Homo sapiens: one gene and its partners. The protein of the gene in region 1 purifies or fractionates together with the protein of each later gene. This does not show direct contact. Each region holds a gene or a part of one and is shown in the gene's direction. Other genes may lie near its edges.

Region 1 (4,024 bases):
AATTGATTGTTGTAAGGTAGAAGTAGATGACCCAATAAATGTTTGTTATTAATGAAAAGGACATTTCCTAAGGATTGTGTAGTGTTCTACTGTATGGTGCATATTCAGTGGAGTGGGAGTTAACTTCATAGTTTGTGTACCATTTGGATGCACATTTGAGAGGACAACATATTATTGGCACTTTGCAATTTTAAAAACTCGGATGAAAGTTGCCCTGGTAGGAAAGAAAATCCTTACTCTCCCTAAAAATGTTGGCTAGTTGTTTTTATTAATCTGACAAATGGACTAAAGAAGGTTGACCAATGTCCACAAATTTATGTAAATGAACTTATGAGCTTCATTTATCCAATTCCAAAGTCATTTCAGATAGGATAATAATGCAATCCACTAGAATATCCCTTTGTACCTTGTATTGCAGAATAGATAAGCATTTCCCCAATAACTCTTAAGAATGAATTTATGTACTGTAAAAGATATGACATAAGAGAAGTATTTTGAGATATGAAGAAGAGCAACGTAGTAGGGTATATCATTTCTTAGCTACATCATATGGGCAGTATACTTGAATGAATATTTCCTGAAGTAGAAGAGTAAAGAAAAATTATTTTTATAAAGAATGTTAATATAGTCAGGAAGAGGAGATGTTTGGGGATTGGTATAAAATTGCCACAACTTTACAAAATAGTTTTAAATAGTATAGATTTCCCTAATATGTGTAATATAAAACACTAGAAATATTGGGGAGTTGGAAATCATAGAAATGAACAGAAGAATGATAAAATTGTTTCCATAGCTAATAAAAAATGAATTTTTGAAATCAGTATAGTATGAAGGCTCTGAGAGCAAGAACTGTATCATATTAATTATTATATTGCCAGTGACAAGGGCAATACTTAGTTCTAGCTAAGAGTTCAAGGTATGTTTGCAGAATGGTGAAAGAATGGACCAATGTATGCAGGTTTGTATAAAAACCCAACGTGATATTTCTAACAATTTGGAAAACAGAGAAAGATACCTTAAAGAAGTTGTTATAATTTTTTATTAAGTATATGGACGTAAAAACTTGGCTTGTTAAGTTAGGCACACAAAAACAATTACTGCACTGGTTAACTTGAAGCCGCAGAGGCTGTAGTTTCCTAGTGCTGACTCTGGGCGCCGCTGTTGGCCAAAGTGCAGAGCTTGGCGCTCCAGATCTCCTCGCGCAGCCGCAGCGCGCTTTCCAGGGCAGCCCCAGCTCAGACTCCCCAGCGCCGGCCTTTACACCGCTTCCTCCTCGGAAAAAGAATCGTTTCCTAAACTGGAACTGGAACTAAAGCCCGTTCGGAGATCCAAAAATCTACAATACAGAGGTTATTTGTAACCTGGCGTCTCCAGGCTGGTGAGCAAGCTGAGGAGAGCAAGAGGGATGGGGAGCGGCGCCGGGGAGCTGGGCCGGGCTGAGAGGCTGCCAGTGCTCTTTCTCTTCCTGCTGTCTTTGTTCTGCCCGGCGCTCTGTGAGCAGATCCGCTACAGGATTCCCGAGGAAATGCCCAAGGGCTCCGTAGTGGGGAACCTCGCCACGGACCTGGGGTTCAGCGTCCAGGAGTTACCGACTCGAAAACTGCGCGTCAGTTCGGAGAAGCCTTACTTCACCGTGAGCGCAGAGAGCGGGGAGTTGCTTGTGAGCAGCAGGCTAGACAGGGAGGAGATATGCGGGAAGAAGCCAGCTTGTGCTCTGGAATTTGAGGCTGTTGCTGAAAATCCACTGAACTTTTATCACGTGAATGTGGAGATCGAGGACATTAATGACCACACGCCAAAATTCACGCAAAATTCCTTTGAGCTGCAAATAAGTGAGTCTGCACAGCCTGGCACAAGATTTATACTAGAAGTAGCAGAAGATGCAGATATTGGCTTAAACTCTCTGCAGAAGTATAAACTCTCTCTTAACCCAAGTTTCTCATTAATAATTAAGGAGAAACAGGATGGTAGTAAATACCCGGAACTGGCACTGGAGAAAACCTTAGACCGGGAACAACAGAGTTACCATCGTTTAGTCCTGACTGCCTTGGACGGTGGACATCCACCCCTAAGCGGCACCACTGAGCTCCGGATCCAGGTAACCGACGCCAATGATAATCCCCCGGTATTCAACCGAGACGTGTACAGAGTCAGCCTTCGGGAAAACGTGCCACCAGGCACCACTGTGTTGCAAGTGTCAGCCACTGACCAAGACGAGGGCATCAACTCAGAAATTACTTATTCCTTCTACAGAACCGGGCAAATCTTTAGTCTGAATTCAAAGAGCGGAGAAATTACCACTCAAAAGAAACTGGATTTTGAAGAGACCAAGGAATATTCAATGGTTGTAGAAGGGAGGGATGGTGGTGGACTGGTTGCACAATGTACAGTTGAAATTAATATTCAAGATGAAAATGACAATAGCCCAGAAGTTACATTCCATTCTCTACTTGAAATGATTCTGGAAAACGCGGTGCCTGGAACACTAATTGCTTTGATCAAAATACATGACCAAGATTCTGGGGAAAATGGGGAGGTTAATTGTCAATTACAAGGCGAAGTCCCTTTTAAGATTATCTCTTCATCCAAAAATTCGTATAAGTTGGTAACAGATGGAACCCTAGACCGAGAGCAAACCCCGGAGTACAATGTCACCATCACAGCCACAGACAGGGGCAAGCCGCCCCTCTCCTCCAGCATAAGCGTCATCCTACATATCAGAGACGTCAACGATAACGCTCCGGTTTTCCACCAGGCGTCCTACTTAGTCAGTGTACCCGAAAACAACCCTCCTGGGGCCTCCATCGCGCAAGTCTGCGCCTCGGACCTGGACTTGGGGTTGAACGGCCAAGTCTCCTACTCTATCATGGCCAGCGACCTAGAGCCTCTGGCACTGGCCTCTTACGTGTCCATGAGCGCGCAAAGTGGGGTGGTGTTCGCGCAGCGCGCCTTTGACTACGAGCAGCTGCGCACCTTCGAACTCACACTACAGGCCCGCGACCAGGGCTCGCCTGCGCTCAGCGCAAACGTGAGCCTGCGCGTGTTGGTGGGCGACCGAAACGACAACGCACCGCGGGTGCTGTACCCCGCGCTGGGTCCCGACGGCTCTGCGCTCTTCGATATGGTGCCGCGCGCTGCAGAGCCCGGCTACCTGGTGACCAAGGTAGTGGCCGTGGACGCAGACTCAGGACACAACGCCTGGCTGTCCTACCACGTGCTGCAGGCTAGCGAGCCCGGGCTCTTCAGCCTGGGGCTGCGCACAGGAGAGGTGCGCACAGCGCGTGCCTTGGGCGACAGGGACGCGGCCCGCCAGCGCCTGCTGGTTGCTGTGCGTGATGGTGGACAGCCGCCACTCTCCGCCACCGCCACGCTGCACTTGGTCTTTGCTGACAGCTTGCAGGAGGTGCTGCCGGATATCACTGACCGCCCTGTACCCTCTGACCCCCAGGCTGAGCTGCAGTTTTACCTAGTGGTGGCCTTGGCCTTGATCTCAGTGCTCTTCCTCCTGGCCGTGATTCTGGCCGTTGCCTTGCGCCTGCGACGCTCCTCCAGCCCTGCCGCCTGGAGCTGCTTCCAACCTGGTCTCTGTGTCAAGTCTGGACCTGTGGTTCCCCCCAACTACAGTCAGGGGACTTTGCCTTATTCCTACAACCTATGTGTTGCACATACAGGAAAGACGGAGTTTAATTTCCTAAAATGTAGTGAGCAATTGAGTTCAGGACAAGACATACTTTGTGGTGATTCATCTGGGGCCTTATTTCCACTTTGTAATTCCAGCGAGTCGACTTCCCATCCTGAGTTGGTGAGTTTCATTTATGTCTATTCTTTTTCATTACCCACCCAATTTTCTGTATTTACATGAAACTATCGTACATTTTCAAGTCCAATGAGTTGTCTTAGGGAAGTCAGAGCTGCTCAGAAAGCTGTCCTACCATTCTTTAAGAGGAGCAGTAAATTGTGAGTTTTTATGTCGCATAAAAGAAGTAGCCTTATAGATTTACAAAGTAGTGAGAGTTTGCTCTTA
Region 2 (3,500 bases), on another chromosome or scaffold:
CCAAGTTCTGTTCTCTTCATGAAAGTGGTACAGTATCGATTCTCTGTGATCACCCATGCGCGTTGAAATATGAAAGTATGTGCCTCACACACACACACACAAACACAGAGTTTATTTCCAAAACCTGACAAATAGAAAAACCCTGCCTTATATTCAGCTTGTCAGTGACTTTTTCCCCTTAAATTCTCCCACTGTAGTGATGATTTCTTAAAGCTTCAAAATAACTCCAGTGGCACAGAAATATCTGTGAGCAATACTTACTTATTTCTCCAGTAAACTTTCCATCTATTCAGCTATCTATTACAAGCTGTTGGTCAACCCCATGAAGGCAGAATATTAACCCCCAGTCATGCATGGACCAGATATACCCCCTACAACTGTGCATGGACCAGAACCTTCTGGATAAGGACTGGCTGTCTGGGGAAGGGGCAGCTGTGGGGGAAGGTATATGGGGTGATAGGGCCATGACCTTGGCAGCCCATAACTGTGCCCCACCTCCAGGTGCCCCTGGGATGGCACCTTCTTTGGTCCATTGAGGCTACCCTCTGGTTGTTAAAGATGTGAGAGCATCAGATCCAGTTCACAGCTCTCCATCACAGACCCCATAATACCTGGGGTGAGAAGAGGCCACCCAGTCTTTCCATTTTTAAAGCAGTTAATTTCTTAACTTTAAAAAAAAAATCTTTCTTTTTTACTCTATTATATAAATAGGTGACATAAAGACAGTTTCTTACCTTGAAGTGTTGGAAGACCTAGAACCTTCCTTTCCCCACCCCAGTCATTTTCCTGACCTTGATGTCTCCAATACAGTGCTCTTGAACTCTAGGGTCACGTGCTTTAACCTCTTATTTTACATTACAGAGGAGGAAACTGAGGCCTAAAGAGGGGAAATGATTTATCCAGTGTCATAGTGTTAGGCCACACCTTCTATACCACAGTGACTATGTCCTAACTAGTGACAGCTGCAGTGTAGGGCTTGGTGCATTCTTACTTGGTACACCTCGTCTTTAATCCTGCGGGGTGAACATTTTCACCTCTCTTATGCCCACCTTGGGGAAAAGCAAGAGGTAACAGATTTACACAAGGGGATGTCGCTAGCAAGTGAGTGGCCAGAGTTTGCACATAGGTCCTTACAACCCCAATGCCCATGCTCCCCTCCCTATCATGCGACAGACGGCGAGCCACCGGGATGCTGCCAGCCAGGGTCCCAAAGTGGTTGTCCCTGGGCCACTCCACCTATCCTTGTCTACTCCCCACACCTCCCTCACCTTCCAAGTTCTAGTCTGGAATCTAGCCTTGGTCAGCAGAGATGAGAAAAACCACTCAGGTGACCCCAGTTTCTATTCCTGTGTCAAGCCAGAGATAGAAATTCACCTGAACCACATACCAAATGGGCCCCTAGGTCAGCTCATGATTCCCCAATCAGGCATTGTCACCAAAGCCACCAAATTCCATGAGAGGGAGCCAGGGGGAGTTGAGGAGAAAGTAGCAATCCATTTTTACACTGAATTTCCAGGGCAAAGAGACTCTCAGCCACAGTTATTTCCCTTAGAAGTTCAGTTTTGTCTTGACCATTTCTAAAGTCTGCTCAGAACTTGGCTAGTAGATGACCAAAGCCCTGGGCTAGTTAGCCTTGTGCATGTCCCCTCCCAGGAAGCAGAGCACAGGGAAGAGTATAGGGCAGTGACTGAGAGTAAAGAGCATGGGTCAGTGATTCCACACTTACAGGACACAGCATGGGTCAGGTACTATTCTAAGTACTCTTCACATAGAGTAATTCAACAATGTTACTATTACTCATGAAATAATGGGGGCATGGAAGGGTTAGCCAGGTAGTTCATGGTGGCAGTGCCAGGATTTGACCCAGGCAGTCTGGCTGACAGCTCACGCTCTTAAGCACGGAGCTCCTTGCCTGGCACATGAGTAACTGAACTATTGCGAGTCCTCTGGGCTGTGTGGCAGAGAGAATCTGGACTGGTCCATCTGGGGAATTTTTCTCAAAGCTGCCCTCGTCTGGTCTTGAGAAATGAAACCTACCTTTGTGACCCCCAGTTCTTGCCCAAGGAGGAATTGTACATGCCCCCACTGGTGATCAAGGTCATCGACCACAGGCAGTTTGGGCGGAAGCCTGTCGTCGGCCAGTGCACCATCGAGCGCCTGGACCGCTTTCGCTGTGACCCTTATGCAGGGAAAGAGGACATCGTCCCACAGCTCAAAGGTAACATGCAAGGCTGTGCATAAGTCTGGGGGCTTTTCTTTTTTTTTTTTTTTTTTTTGAGACGGAGTCTCGCTCTGTCGCCCAGGCCGGACTGCGGACTGCAGTGGCGCAATCTCGGCTCACTGCAAGCTCCGCTTCCCGGGTTCACGCCATTCTCCTGCCTCAGCCTCCCGAGTAGCTGGGACTACAGGCGCCCGCCACCGCGCCCGGCTAATTTTTTGTATTTTTAGTAGAGACGGGGTTTCACCTTGTTAGCCAGGATGGTCTCGATCTCCTGACCTCATGATCCACCCGCCTCGGCCTCCCAAAGTGCTGGGATTACAGGCGTGAGCCACCGCGCCCGGCCGTCTGGGGACTTTTCATGCATGGCTCTGATTTACTCTTTACAAACCTACTCAAGGTAAGTCCTGGATTCATTGTCTACATTTTACGGATGAGCAAACTGCGTGAGTTGCGGTGGGTTATGGCACTTTCCTAAGGTTCTATCATTCGTAAGTGGCAGAGCTGGGCTGGAATCTCGGCCTTGTTTTAGGGGTGGGTGGCATGCTCGAGGGATTCCTCTCTGAAGCGTCCTGCTCCTGGGTGAATGTAAGACTTCTTTTGAGGAAGTGTTAAGTGCTCATGAATGTTCCCTATTCACCTTTCAACAAGCAGCTTGCAAAGCAGGGAGAGCTGTTCCCACATCAGTGATGGGGATGAAGTCATTTCCTCTGCCTTTCACTGAATGGTTAGGAAGCACTCACTGACTGCCACGTGCTGTTCTAGATATCTGGGGACAGTGGGGACCAAGAAAGGCATGTTCCCCTCTCACAAAGCAAAAGTCCAGCAGGGAAGGCAAACGAGGAAGTGTGCAGTTGCAGTCCAGTGTGATAAATATCTTGATGGGGAAAACAGGAAGCTCCCTGACCCCATGAACACTGAGAGAGGAGGAGATTTTATTTCAGATTGCTTTCCACCTGTTGGCCTACCTCATTATCACATATAATTAATATGTAAATGATAGAGCAGGGCATAATACTTACTTTAGATTTCCATAATAAATAATAGCTAGTGATACAGCATTTTGCAATTACCCATTCAATAGTTACTTGCTTTTAGCTTACCATGTGCTAGGGACTGTGTTAGGGGCTGGGGGCTACATTGCATCAGTGCAAGAGATCCCAGGGCCCCTGGCCTCATAAATTAGACACCGTGGGAGGGCTGGAACAGCCTCATTCGGCTGATCCTTGGTGGCTTCAAGACTGAAGCAGATGTCTTCTATTTAAGCAGCTGTGTCACTAAC
Region 3 (3,500 bases), on another chromosome or scaffold:
CCACGCCCAGCTAATTTTTTGTATTTTTTTGTATTTTTAGTAGAGATGGGATTTCACTGTGTTAGCCAAGATGGTCTCCATCTCCTGACCTCGTGATCCACCCCCCTTGGCCTCCCAAAGTGCTGGGATTACAGGCGTGAGCCACCACGCCTGGCCATGACAGCGTATTTTTAAAATGAAGTTACTAAATGAAAAATCGAAAATTTAATGGAAGCAAGACTAAATTAGTTTACTGGGTTGTCTTCTTTAATTTACTTGTATCCTTTCCGTAGACAGTCTGGCACAGGTTTGAATGTGTCCTGGCTCTTCATTACTGAGGCTAATATATGCAAAAGTGTGTCCATCCCTTCTACCTTTATTCACATTCCATTACTTTTATAGACTTTTCTTTTTTTGCTTTCATAATTAATACTGGCAGTTGACTTTCTTTTCAGGGGTCTTTCTTCACAAACAAATTTTTTTCATTTTCATTTTCTATTTTTTTTTTTTTTTTTTTTTTTTTGAGACAGGGTCTCACTCTGTCACCCAGGCTGGAGTGCAGTGGGGCAATCTCAGCTCACTGCAGCCTCCTGAGTAGTTGGGACCACAGATGCAAACCACCACACCCAACTGATTTTTCAATTTTTTGTAGAGACGGGGGTCTCGCTATGTTACCCAGGCTGGTCTCAAACTCCTGGGCTCAAGCAATCCTCCCACCTTGGCCTCCCAGCATGCTGGGATTACAGGCATGACTAACCATTTAACCATAAAAAATATTTTTTTAGTCACTTAAAAAGAGACTTTGTCATGTTGAGGGTCAGATGCTAAGTTATCAGCAGGCTCAGTCATGTCCCTCTTGATTTTTAGCTGTGGAAGAGAAATGGCCCCAGTTCATCACCCTTCTCTAGCCCAGCCTCATCCCGCTCCCAGACACCGGAGAGGCCAGCAAAGAAAATAAGGTATTCGGCATTCTCCTGCAGTTTTCATTTGCTACGTGGACAGAAGGGGGTGAGGAAAGGTGGGAAACGAACCTGGCTCTTAGGCTTTGTGCTGCTGTGACTTGGAGAATCAAAGAAACTAAGTCCCTGAGAGGGACAATGCAGCACCCACCTGAACAACTATCATCCCTACAGTCTTGGATACTGACTCCAGTGGCCTCTGGCTGTCGCCTCCCACTCCAGCATGAGGGATCGGGTGCAAGCACAGAGGCCATGCAGAGTGGAGAGCAGAGAGAGTCAAGTCAGCGGGCAGTCGCCTTCAGGTTCTTGACTCGAGCTGATCCCCTAGGTGCTTGCAGTTGGCTGGAATGCCACTCCCTCAGGGATCACATCTGTGTCTAGAACTCCCAGGGACTTGGTAGGTTGTAAGTAAGGTTTGAAGATTATTGTTTTGTGCTTGTTTTAAGACAAAAACTGTCTTCATGGCCTCTGTGAACAGCCTCCCTTCATTCTGTTGGAATTTCCTGTTGACTTTTTTTATCCTGGCATACTGAGATCTTAAATGATGGTTGTTTTAGATGTTGGCCACTTGGTAGTTAGGAGGGTGTGAGAAATTATTTAATACTTCAGCCAAGAAGTCTTTCTAGACTAAATTGTTCCTTTTTTCCCAACAGAGAAGAAGAGCTGTGTCATCATTCCAGTTCTTCAACTCCATTGGCAGCAGACAAGGAGTCCCAGGGAGAAAAGGGTAGGTTGCTGAGCCAGGAGGAGGGGCTGCTGTTGGTGGTGGAGGTATTTGTGGAGGATGTAGAGATTAATACCTATTGAAAAAAGGTCTTGAGCATTGCTATGTCTAAGGCATGTTAGATACAAAGAGAGAGATTTCCTCTCCTTCAGAAGTTTATAGTCTGATGAGGGAGAAAGGCTACAGATGGGGGCTAACGATTGGATAGAGGTAAGCTCAGTTTGAGTCACCTGTGGGTGATCCCAGTAATTACTGCACAGTAAGCGGTTTGTGTGCGCGCCTTAATCTTACAAACACCATCCAAGCAACCAAACCATAGAAGATTGAATCTTTTCAGAGATACCATCATTGAAAACTCAGTGTGAAATGCGAAGTGGGTAGACACAACCATCCATTTCTGGAAGAGGGAAGGAAGCAAACGAGTCTTGATTTCTTTCTTTAGCTGCAGATACAACCCCAAGGAAGAAACAAAACTCGAATTCTCAGTCTACACCTGGCAGCTCTGGGCAGCGTAAGCGGAAAGTTCAGCTGCTGCCTTCTCGGCGAGGGGAACAGCTGACCTTGGTATGGTCTTGTCCATCTACTCCTGCCCTCCCCGGCTTAGCTCTCCTAAGTCTTAGGAACGCTAAGGACAAGTTTCTTCTGTTTTTTTTTCTAACTTATTTTTGTTTTTGTTTTTTGAGACAACATCCCTCTGTCACCCAGGCTGGAGTTCAGTGGCTCGATTTTGGCTAACCGTAACCTCTGCCTCCTGAGTTCAAGCAATTCTCCTGCCTCAGCCTCCCAAGTAGCTGGGATTACAGGCGCTTGCTACCACGCCTGACTAATTTTTTGTATTTTTAGTAGAGATGGGGTTTCACCATGTTGGCCAGGCCAGCCTCAAACTCCTGACCTCAAGTGATCCAGCTGGCTTGGCCTCCCAGAGTGCTGAGATTACCGGCGTTAGCCACCACGCCCAGCCTTCCCGTTTTTTCTGATTGGCCTGACTTCTTCTTTTTCTCTTTGGTAGCCTCCACCTCCCCAGCTTGGCTATTCGATCACTGCCGAGGACCTAGACTTAGAGAAGAAGGCTTCATTACAGTGGTTCAACCAGGCCTTGGAGGACAAGAGTGGTAAGGAGCACAGATCGTTGCACTCTCGAGAGGTTTCAGGTGTCTGTTTTCTTTGGTTTTATTTTGGTGTTTGGAAAAATGGGTTTCTCTGGGAAAATCCGAAGTAGAGTTCCATGTTTTCTTGTGGTCTTTCTCACCTGAGATATCCGTGTTGGTCTTCACGGGAACTGGACAGCAGGGACTACTGCAATTTAGGGCAGACATTCCTCCATGAGCTGTGCTGAGAGCCTGCTCTCCGACAGGCATGTGGAAAGAAGTCCCAGACAAGCCAGGACTGCTTCACCTTTCTTTCTTTCTTAGATGCTGCCTCGAACTCTGTCACTGAGACCCCACCTACCACTCAGCCTTCATTTACCTTTACCCTGCCTGCTGCTGCAACTGCCTCCCCACCCACCTCCCTCCTGGCCCCAAGCACCAACCCACTGTTAGAGAGCTTGAAGAAGATGCAGACTCCCCCGAGCCTGCCACCCTGCCCAGGTGAGCTGGAGTGGGGCCGTGGATCCAGCCTTCTGAGCAGCATCCCCGGCTTGGGTTGGAATAAGGGCGTCGTGCCTGTCAGTCGCTGGAGATTGCTCTGCAGGCCGAACGCACCCTGGCTCAGCACACCGGAGCGGGCCTACGTTTAACAGCGCCGGAGCCCACATCAGGAAGTGTTAGAGAAGGGGTGCTGCGACGCTCAGGATCTGAAGCCTGGCTTAGCTGCCCTGAGCCTCGCCTTCCTCATTT
Region 4 (3,500 bases), on another chromosome or scaffold:
GGTGATTTTTTTTTTTTTTTAATAGAGAGACAAGGTCTTGCTTTGTCACCCAGCCTGGAGTGCAGTGGCATGATCATAGCTCACTGCAGCCTCGAACTCCTGGGCTCAGGCAATCCTCCCACCTCAGCCTCCCCAGTAGCTAGGACTACAGGTGCAAACCACCACACCTGGATATTTTTAAACTTTTTGTAGAAACAGGCTCTCACTATGTTCCAGGCTGGTCTTGAACTCCTGGCCTCAAGTGATCCTTCCACCTTGGCCTCTCAAAGTGCTAGGATAACAGATGTGAACTGCCAAGCCCAGCCACATATGGTGAAATTTAAGGGTGACTAATTTTAGACATTAAAATGGTCCAGAAAAATCCATGGCACAAGTCTAGAGGAGGAAAAATTTCAACAGCAGCACATGTGAGCAAAACTCAGGTTTTTGTTAACAGTAACCTCAATAGGAGTCAACTGTGAAGTGGCTGCCAGAAAAGATCAGGCAACCTTGGGTTGCATTTGTAGACCTCAGTGTCTGAAGCAACAACTGCAAACAACAGATGTCTCCTGACTAGCTGCTTGTATGTGCCGGCCTCTGTGCTGGGGCACTGGGGACACTGCAGTGACTGAATCAGCCACAGTCCAGGCCCTCATAGACCCTACCTTCTGGGGGACAAGGGAAGTGATTTTTGACATCTCATCCTGCTCTGCACTGTCCAGACCCTACCGAATCCTGTGTCCTGCCCTAGCCAGCTCCCTTTAATAAAGAGGAACATTAACCAACTAGAATTGGTGCAGGTGGGTGTGAGCAGAAGAGTGAGGAAACCTGATACCATGTCATGTGAGGGAAGGTGGCAGAAATTGGATAGGTTTATTTAGCCTTAGAGAAGGTAAGAGATGAAAGGACTTAGGGAAGACATAATGGCTGTCTTCCCTAACAGCTGTGAGGGATTGTCATTTAGAAGACAGGTTTCATTTCTTTTCTTTTCTTCCTGAAACAGCTTTTTGTAAAACAAGAAAGCAGAATTGCAACACAATTTAAATGTCTGTCTAGGTCACAAAAGGGATGCAAAATGTTTGTAATATGATTAGTATGTATTCATATAGTGAGTCATTCTTACACCTATACATAAGATTATTCCATGATTAAAGGTAGCCCAGCTCTAATAACCATAAGCTATATTAGTGGATCCCTTTTCCTATTATAACATTTTAGTATTACTTCTGATATTGATTCCCTTAACAAATGGAGTCTACAAACTGAATTTTAAAAAATTGTTAAAAGTGACTAAAACTCTGTAAACAGAGGAGTTGAGTTTACAAAAAATTCTGGGAGAACAAGCAGGATAAAACTGAGCAAGATTATCAATAAGTGTACATCTGAAACTCCCATTTTTCACAGTTCTGATACTAATACATTCTTAAGGAATTTTGCAAAAGTTAATCTGCTGAGTAGAAATATACCTTGAGACCAAACTCTTTGTAACTGTTCTCTTCCAGATGTGGTACATAAGATTAGTCAAAGTTGGCCAGATGCGGTAGCTCACGCCTGTAATCCCAGCACTTTGGGAGGCTGAGGTGGGCAAATCGCTAGAGCTCACAAGTTCGAGACCAGCCTAGGCAACATGGCAAAACCTCATATCTACAAAAAAATACACACAAAAAAATTAGCCGGGCATGATGGTACACGCCTGTAGTCCCAGCTACTTGGGAGGCTGAGGTGGGAGGTTGGCTTGAGCCTGAGCCGTGGAGGTTGCAGGGAGCCAAGATCATGCCACTGCACTCCAGCTTGGGTGACAGAGCCAGGCCTTGTCCCCTCCCCCCGTCCCCCCGCCAAAAAACAGGTTAGTCGAGCTTAATCTACTCTCATATATTTCCCAAAAGATCTACTCTGTGCCAGAGATAACAAAAATCTGGAGTGAAAATATTTGGAGTTGGTTACTAGTATTTTCCCAAGTACTTTTCCATCCTATTTCTATTTTCCCTTAAGCTTTTCTATTTTAAACACACACGACCATAATTTATATCTTTTCAGATACAAAGTAGGTAATTTTGTAAAAAAAAAAAAAAAAAAGAAGTTTTTTTTTTGTTTTTTGTTTTTTGAGATAGAGTCTCACTTTGTTGCCCAGGCTGGAGTGCAGGCTCACTGCAAACCCCACCTCCTAGAGGTTCAAGCAATTCTCCCTGCCTCAGCCTCCCAAGTAGCTGGGATTACAGGCACCCACCACCACGCCCAGCTAATTTTTGTATTTTTAGTAGAGATGGGGTTTCGCCATGTTGGCCAGGCTGGGCTTGAACTCCTGATCTCAGGTGATCCTCCTGCCTCGGCCTCCCAAAGTGCTGGGATTACAGGCGTGAGCCACTGTACCTGGCCAAAAAGAAGTTTTTGACAACAAAAAATTATCTTCCCAGATTGACAATTCAGTTTCAATGAAAAATCTTCATTTTTATAGTCTCTTTTTGTTTTCAATTGATTAAAGAGAAACCAGCAATTCTATCTTAGTATTAAATATCACAAATGAGAAGCTCTAGCTGAGAAAATGTCTTCATTTGGTTAAGTTTTGACAATTAAAGTTCAGGTTACTCTCAGAGATGATTAAGTATTAAAATTGCTTTTACAAATATGAAACCAGTTTTTCCCTGGGGGAGGGGAGATAGGAAGGAAGAAGCCAGTGGAGAAGGGGCCCAAGAAGATGGATAGGGTACATGAATCTGTGCAGTCAGTACCTGATTGGGGTCACTTTTTCACAGCATGATGGTTATTTTCTTGTATATCTTACTAAGCCTATAATAAAAGACAGGGCTAAACCCACAAATCAGAGCAAATTTGATAAAACATTCATCTTAAGTTTCATAAATATGTGCTATTCTAAATTAAGTTTCCAATACATTTGCACATTCTCATAGACTAACATAATACACAAACTTATGGAAGTTTCCTGTTATGCTATGAATGTTGCCTACATCTGACATTAGCTTCATAAATATTCAATGAAACCACAAACAAAGGTACTATCACTTTTGAAATCTGTCCAACATATAAAGAAAGGTCAGCAGCAATTCCATAAAACAGAAGGGCTTCAATTCTGTATTTTCTTTTGCTTTTTGTGTCAGTTGTTTGAAAAACACTAGAAGCTGACATGAAATTTTCTGTGTATTGTCTAAGAAACTTGGTTTTCTGATTTTAGCTTGAGATTTTCTTCCGTAACCGCATCTCCTCTGACAGGGAGATCTTGAAGTGTATGTTGGGGTTCCAACACTTGATTAATAAGCTGTGTTTTTCCCTCCAATTCCAAATGATTTTCAGCATCAACTGCATCCATGTCAATATTTGTCGTCTTGGGTAACAAACTTTTGGGCCTTGGATACAAAATCCTTGATGAATGTTTGAGGTGCTGGGAGAGGAAGGGATGGGGAGGATGCCTCAGGCTGGACACTTGGACCCACCGACACCAGAAGTTTGATTTCTTCTTTGTCAAACCACAAGGCAGGATTACTGCCCACTGCTACTGGTTGATA

What was found. Proteins that work in one complex are often made in the same cells at the same time.
Region 2: the proteins of PCDHGB5 (region 1) and MYOF purify together in Homo sapiens (co-immunoprecipitation; one large-scale study listed by IntAct). This does not show direct contact.
Region 3: the proteins of PCDHGB5 (region 1) and POM121C purify together in Homo sapiens (affinity purification with mass spectrometry, with the first as the bait; one large-scale study listed by BioGRID). This does not show direct contact.
Region 4: the proteins of PCDHGB5 (region 1) and DHRS7 purify together in Homo sapiens (co-immunoprecipitation; 2 studies listed by BioGRID and IntAct, with this or other methods). This does not show direct contact.

What each region holds. Positions count from the first base shown.
Region 1 is NC_000005.10:141,396,723-141,400,746, forward strand, and holds the start of PCDHGB5 (protocadherin gamma-B5 isoform 1 precursor), read left to right. Parts: upstream 1-1,224; 5' UTR 1,225-1,405; coding exon 1,406-3,802; coding exon of another isoform or gene 3,803-3,862; intron 3,863-4,024. UniProt on the Homo sapiens protein: Potential calcium-dependent cell-adhesion protein. May be involved in the establishment and maintenance of specific neuronal connections in the brain.
Region 2 is NC_000010.11:93,346,335-93,349,834, reverse strand, and holds part of MYOF (myoferlin), read left to right. Parts: coding exon 1-27; intron 28-2,052; coding exon 2,053-2,218; intron 2,219-3,500. UniProt on the Homo sapiens protein: Calcium/phospholipid-binding protein that plays a role in the plasmalemma repair mechanism of endothelial cells that permits rapid resealing of membranes disrupted by mechanical stress. Involved in endocytic recycling.
Region 3 is NC_000007.14:75,423,800-75,427,299, reverse strand, and holds part of POM121C (nuclear envelope pore membrane protein POM 121C), read left to right. Parts: intron 1-846; coding exon 847-938; intron 939-1,591; coding exon 1,592-1,665; intron 1,666-2,104; coding exon 2,105-2,226; intron 2,227-2,671; coding exon 2,672-2,774; intron 2,775-3,074; coding exon 3,075-3,251; intron 3,252-3,500. UniProt on the Homo sapiens protein: Essential component of the nuclear pore complex (NPC). The repeat-containing domain may be involved in anchoring components of the pore complex to the pore membrane. When overexpressed in cells induces the formation of cytoplasmic annulate lamellae (AL).
Region 4 is NC_000014.9:60,158,899-60,162,398, reverse strand, and holds part of DHRS7 (dehydrogenase/reductase SDR family member 7 isoform 1 precursor), read left to right. Parts: intron 1-3,500. UniProt on the Homo sapiens protein: NADPH-dependent oxidoreductase which catalyzes the reduction of a variety of compounds bearing carbonyl groups including steroids, retinoids and xenobiotics.